Linked DNA regions of Homo sapiens: region 2 is reported to be linked to region 1. The links are microRNA targets in miRTarBase. Many come from high-throughput screens and were not tested one by one. Region 1 holds a microRNA gene; the other region holds the end of a gene's coding sequence.

What was found. The annotated mature microRNA hsa-miR-7152-5p reads UUUCCUGUCCUCCAACCAGACC and lies in region 1 at 1,333-1,354, shown strand. An mRNA with a match to its seed (bases 2 to 7 or 8) in the 3' UTR can be bound and repressed. Matches are read on the target gene's strand: a 7mer-m8 pairs with bases 2 to 8, a 7mer-A1 pairs with bases 2 to 7 and ends in A, and an 8mer does both.
Region 2: the mRNA of ARMC10 is a reported target of hsa-miR-7152-5p. The part of its 3' UTR that is shown has no 7-base or 8-base seed match.

Annotation. Positions count from the first base shown.
Region 1 is chr10:71,789,415-71,792,414 of GRCh38, forward strand. It overlaps MIR7152 (microRNA 7152), which reads left to right and starts at 1,333; the gene lies at 1,333-1,386. It overlaps CDH23 (cadherin related 23), which reads left to right. Exons shown (of 70, transcript NM_022124.6): 46 at 874-999; 47 at 1,718-1,921. RefSeq lists an enhancer at 874-1,773.
Region 2 is chr7:103,098,329-103,101,911 of GRCh38, forward strand. ARMC10 (armadillo repeat containing 10) reads left to right here. Exons shown (of 7, transcript NM_031905.5): 7 at 1-1,431. The coding sequence ends at 225. NAPEPLD (N-acyl phosphatidylethanolamine phospholipase D) reads right to left here. Exons shown (of 5, transcript NM_001122838.3): 5 at 1,448-3,583. Among named protein-coding and RNA genes, the nearest start is that of ARMC10, 25 kb to the left of the region's middle.

The sequences.
Region 1 (3,000 bases):
CCTGGGGAGCATCTATAACTAGAAGTGGGAGGTCAGGGGGTCCTGGGTAGGCCAGTGTAGCCCTCTCCCCACACACATGCACTGACCAGGCTCACCTCCCTCCAGAGGGACAGAATCTCCTCTGTGATGTCCCCTGAGGTGGCACCTGCACTCCTCCAGTCTCCCCAGCCCCTGTTCCTCATCTCTGGCTGGGCATCCCCCCTAGGTGAATTTCATTCTTAAACCTGTCTGTGTGTATGCTCACACATGTGCCCGTGTGTGTCCATACCAAGGCATGTGCGTGGGGTTACACATGTGCACAGACACATATAGGTACATGGGTGCCCACTGATGCGCTCGTGTGCAGACATGCCCACCTGCAGAGGCACACGAGTGCACAACCAGGGAATCCCAGGCCTGTGCGTGCTCCTGGACAAGTGCCTGTGGCCATGTGAACACAGAACTTGATGCACACATGAGTGGGTTTTTCTAGTCATGTATGGCCAGGCCCCCAAAGGCAGAGCATTGTGTGAACACATGTGTTGACAGGCGAGACCCACACATGGGGAGGGGATGTCAGGGAGCCCCAGACCCTCCCGAGGAGCGGCCAGCCTCAAAGGCTGCTGGGAAGGCAGATGTGGCTCTGGGCAGCCGGGGCCTTGCTCACCACTCTCATGTTTTCTCCCCAGCAGGGCTTTGAGGCCGCTCCCCAGGCATCTGCGTTCAGTCTGCCAAGGCTGCCGCAGGCCCGCCCCCAGGGCCTCCCCACCCTGTCCACCTCACCTCCCTCCCCTCTCATCCATCGTCAGCCATGGCTCACCGGGACAGGGCAGGGGAGGTGGGAGGGCAGGGGGCTGGGTTGGTCTTGTGGTGACCCCTCTCCTTCTGGCCCAGGCACCCCTCTCACGGTGCTCAATGGGCCCATCCTGGCCCTGGATGCAGACCAAGACATCTACGCCGTGGTGACCTACCAGCTGCTGGGTGCCCAGAGTGGCCTCTTTGACATCAACAGCAGCACCGGTGAGGCCTCTGTGCCACCCAGCACTCCCAGCCTGATTCTGGGGTGGGGATGGCCACACTGCTGGATTGAGGGCCTCCCTTCTCAGTGCTGGACCCAGGCTGTCCGTGGAGACCCCATTTTTCACAGCCCAGAGTCCCCATCTTGCAGCTGGGTTATATCACCCAGTGGCCTGGCAGGGGGACGTGGGAAGAGGCTTGGAGACGATACACAGGACCTCTGTTGGTGCACGAACTCTCAGCCTGGGCCGGGAGCCCCCCAGCCCACTCCCGTCATCTCCCCATGCGCAGGCCAGAGGCTCAGGCCCCTAGTCCAGCAGAAGTAGCCAGAGCGACTTTCCTGTCCTCCAACCAGACCATGCCACATCCGTCTGGTCCTGGACAGGAGGCCGCTTTGGTGACAGGTGCCGACAGGAAAGCACATCTGTCAACAGAGACGGTCAACCCTGTGCCCTGGGTCACTCTTCCCAGGCAAGAGTCTTGAAGACAGCAGAGGGCACCTGCAGAGGGGACAACCACAGGAAATGCATGGGGCCCTCCCTCAGCACGGGTGGTTGAGCCTGTGGGGGAGAAAGTCATTTTGTTACTGCCTCTGCTCCTCTTTCATCTCTGTCCCATGGTGCCCCTGTCTTTCTCTGCTCTCTCCCTGTTGGTTCTTGCCCTGTCTTCCCACCGCACCCCTTTTCTGTGTGTTTCCCTGGCTGGCGGCACCGGGTGCCAGGTGTGGTGACCGTGAGGTCAGGTGTCATCATTGACCGGGAGGCATTCTCGCCACCCATCCTGGAGCTGCTGCTGCTGGCTGAGGACATCGGGCTGCTCAACAGCACGGCCCACCTGCTCATCACCATCCTGGATGACAATGACAACCGGCCCACCTTTAGCCCTGCCACCCTCACTGTCCATCTGCTAGAGAACTGCCCGCCTGGTAAGCAGGGGACAGGCCCCAGCACCCCACAACCAGGGGCCGGTTGGTGGTCACAGGGGACTGGAGCCTCAGGTTGGACACGGAGTTTGCCTCCAGTGGGGAGAAAGATGGGCAGCAGGGTGAGTGTAGAACACACTGGAGAGGGAGTCAGGAGACCTGGGCCCCTGCTTCCCTCCTCTGAGCTTCTGTATCTTGCCTGCAAAACAAGATTCTTTTTTCCTTTCTTTCTTTTTCTTTTCTTTTCTTTTTTTTTTTTTAAGACGGAGTTTTGCTCTTGTTGCCCAGGCTGGAGTGCAATGGCACAATCTCGGCTCACTGCAACCTCAGCCTCCCAGGTTCAAGTGATTCTCCTGCCTCAGCCTCCCGAGTAGCTGGGATTACAGGCGCCCACCACCACACCCAGCTAATTTTTGTATTTTTAGTAGAGACGGGGTTTCACCCTGTTGGCCAGGCTGGTCGCAAACTCCTGACCTCAGGTGATCCACTCGCCTCAGCCTCCCAAAGTGCTGGGATTACAGGTGTGAGCCACCACGCCTGGCCTACAAGATTCCTAAGTATTCTCCATTTGAATTCCCAGATGGAAAGACTGACTATTTTAAAGTCAAAATAGGATCAACATGATTCCCATCAAAATCAAATATAACTTCTGGAAGAATAAGAAAATTTTGAAAAACATAAGTATAATAAGCCAGATTTGGCTTACCAGATTTTATAACATATTATAAAGCTACAGTATTTAAGGCCATGCAATATGGGCACAAGACTCCAGGACAAAGTAGCCCAGAAACAGATACTGGTAAATTAAAGAATAAAATATGATGTGATAAAGGAAGCAATGAGGCCAATGGGGAAGCTACTTATTCAGTGTGCAAAAACCTATTTAATCTAATCAATTACATCCAATTATTATAATCTGTATGTAATCTAATATAATAATAATGTAATATTTAGTGTAGATTCTCCCCCATGTCAGACACCAAAATAAAAACCAAAAGAAAATATTAAAAAGTAGAAAACACTAAACAATAAATGAAGAAAACTTAGGTGAATAACTCATTTCTGGGTAAGAAGGTTCTAAG
Region 2 (3,583 bases), not on the chromosome of region 1:
AGCCACGTAGCAAAGGAGATTCTTCTTCGAGTACTTACGCTATTTCAGAATATAAAGAACTGCCTCAAAATAGAAGGCCATTTAGCTGTGCAGCCTACTTTCACTGAAGGTTCATTGTTTTTCCTGTTACATGGAGAAGAATGTGCCCAGAAAATAAGAGCTTTAGTTGATCACCATGATGCAGAGGTGAAGGAAAAGGTTGTAACAATAATACCCAAAATCTGATTGGTCATATTTTTCCAAAGAGTAATGCAGTCTGGATATAAACGTATTTTCTGTCTTCCTTATAAGGGGATTCTCCCAGCTGCTAAATTTAAACAGTAAATATCACATTTTGTCATTAACACAGCTATAACTTGCCGTGGTTCTCAGATTTATTTTGGACTATTTTGATGCCAAGTGAATATAAGAGCTTGTACTGAAACCATTTATTTCTTTCTATTTTGCTATTTGCAAATGCTTGTTATCTTCCCTACATGAAGTGGCAGTAACCTTTTTCACATTTAAGCTACCCTTCTACCTTTTGAAGTGATTTGCAGTTACTCATCTGAGACAGCATCAGTATTTGACTAAATCATTGTTTCACAACTGAATAGTCTTGTTCTTTTAGTAGCAACGAAATCCTAAGCTCTTGAGGCCATTCACCTGCCAACCTGACCATACTGCTTTCAAAAGTCTTTTCTCATCAGTAGAATCTATTTTGGTCACTTCTAGTCAATGAAAAATGTAAACTTTTAGGAGAGAATGTTTCTTAGGACTCACCCACTCCATTCAATGTTATATATAAAATAGTGTGATCAATCACAATGTCCATCTTTAGACAGTTGGTTAAATAAATTATCTGGTCTTTGAAAAGACCGTGCTGGGCGCGGTGGCTCTTGCCTGTAATCCCAGCACTTTGGGAGGCTGAGGCGGGCAGATCACCTGAGATCGGGAGTTTGAGACCAAGCCTGACCAATATGGAGAAACCCTGTCTCTACTAAGAACACAAAATTAGCTGGGCATGGTGGTGCATGCCTGTAATCCCAGCTACTTGGGAGGCCGAGGCAGGAGAATTGCTTGAACCCGGGAGGCAGAGGTTGCAGTGAGCTGAGATAGCGCCATTGCACTCCAGCCTGGGCAACAAGAGCAAAACTCTGTCTCAAAAAAAAAAAAAAATGATGGAGCTCCGAATGTGCTTAAGTGGAAAGATATCTATGAAATATGGTGGTTTTTTAAAACACAAAAATTATAGAATATGGGATCCCGTGTGTGTGTGTGTGTGTTTGAATGAAAAATGCTTATGTATTGACAGAACACTTCTAGAATGATACCCAAACTCCTGGAGTGGGAGTGGGGAATGCCTTCTACGTACACACTGTTCTACTGTTTGAATTTTTTAATATGAGCCCAAATTGTATAATCTTTTTTTAATAAAGGGGAGAAAAATCACTTACAAGGTTATACATATTTTTTCCCTTGACAGTACTTTATTAATTTTCATCCATATTTTACTTGACTAAAAATACAATGTATGAAAATTTATCTTTAATAGCATTTTCCATAAGCTACTATAACAATTTATTGATACATCTGGGATTCAGCCAGGTCTTATAGTATTTAAATTTATAACCCCTGCCATGCTTAGCATTAAGTAAATCAGTATGCAAGCAGTATTTAAGGCAAAGCTTTAAGAATACTTTAAATTTCATTTGTAAATACATAGATGCAAGACTGTTTCCATAGGAAGTCACAAATCCTCAAACAGAAATATGTGTGTTCTCAATGTTACCCTGATACAGAAATCAAACTTGGAAGAAATATTTTTACATTAGAAAAAGGACTCAGTATAAGGTGAAAACAAAATTCCCAGTGGGCTAGACATGAACAAAAGTATTCATTCCCCAAAAGGCACATTTCTTTATAACGGTTTTTTCAAATCTACCTCCCTATTTAATGAAAGCATATTCATTAAATATGAAACTATGCATACATTAAAAACCAGGATTTGTTTTTAATGTGCTTTAGCAGCAGTAGATTCTAAAACTGTGTCTTCTTGTCCTCTCATTAGTTTGAATAATCACACTCCCTAGAGATCAGAGCATTGAGTCTGAAATGTCAAAATGCTAGAGAAAAGAGGGAGTAATTTTTAACTACCCAGAAAGAAGATGCACAAATACATCTTTTCCTACGTAGGTCACGGCATATGTTGGCTTTTATAATTTGGGATTTCTCCTAATTGATGACCCACCCTATTGGGCAGTGAGGCATAGCAAAGTATTCCTCAGTTATCACAGGAAACTTCAATAAAATCTTACATATTGCTATGGGTATTCACGAAGAGGAAAATGAAGTTGACTTAGAGGATAAGACTGATTAAAAGACACTACAATGCATATTAGACTGAATTGAAGAAGAGAATGGATTTGTCTTATTTTTCAAAATTTGTTTTCACTTTGCACATAAACCCTTCAAAATGTAGATAACAAATGAAAAATAAAGTGGAACCCACTCAATAAGGTGAGATTCTGTAAGCAGAGATGAAGCTTGATGTTCTTAATGAATAGTGTCAGTGTAGAAAGAACATGAGTGGTAATAAAAAATTACAGCTTACAAAAGGGCCTAGAAAAATGAGGCAGGCCAGACGAGTGGAAATAGAACACAACAGTTTAAAGTGCTTTGAGACCCTCAGTTAAACAGTACACGTGAATACAAAATAATGTTAAGGCCATTCATGGAGAAGAAATACTTAAGCAAGACATACCTGGCTTGCTTCATAGAGAAGAGGTAAGAGATGGATTTTCAATTCGGCGTGCAGCAGCAGGGAATATGGCTACAACAACGCTGGCTAGTATTAGGGCAACACACCTCAAAGCTAACTCACCATAAACCTAACATCTTGATTCACATCTGCTTGGAGTGAAAAAGTTTATGATCAGTCTTTTCAGGAAGGTTTATTTTATGGGGGATTTTTTTGTGCTTTAGTACCCCAAAATCACATATGTTCGCATACATCATATACACACACATTGCATACACATTTCCCCTTGACTGATTCGCATCTTTGTAGATAAACACTAAATTTTGATAAAGATTATTTACACTTATTTAGGCTATTACTCCAATTTAAAAATCAGTGAAAGTTTTCAATGTTTAGTCTCCTAATATATAATGCTTAAATTTGCAACAGGAACAATACATTATCAAAAGCATTAACCTGTATTTAGCTTTCAAATATACCTGTCTATATTAGGCAGTGATATCTTAAGAAATCATTTTCTCCCTTATATTTTCTAAAGTGCTTTAAAAACTCATTTAATCTACACATTTTTCAGAGGTAGGTCGGAATTATCCTCTTGTTGCAAATGAGGAAACAGGCACAGTGAGCACTGGTGACTTGTTTCAGGTTACACAAAAAAATCCATGATGAAAGCAGGGTAAAAGTTCAGATTTAGTGGCTAACGTGGCACCACACATACAGGTGTGCAAATAAATTATAGAGCACTGCCTGGGTAGCATTTGGTGTAGAAAACCTATTTTGATTATTTTGTATGAATAAAGTGCTGAGACTGGATTAGGAATACAGAATGGGCCTCCAGTGGTA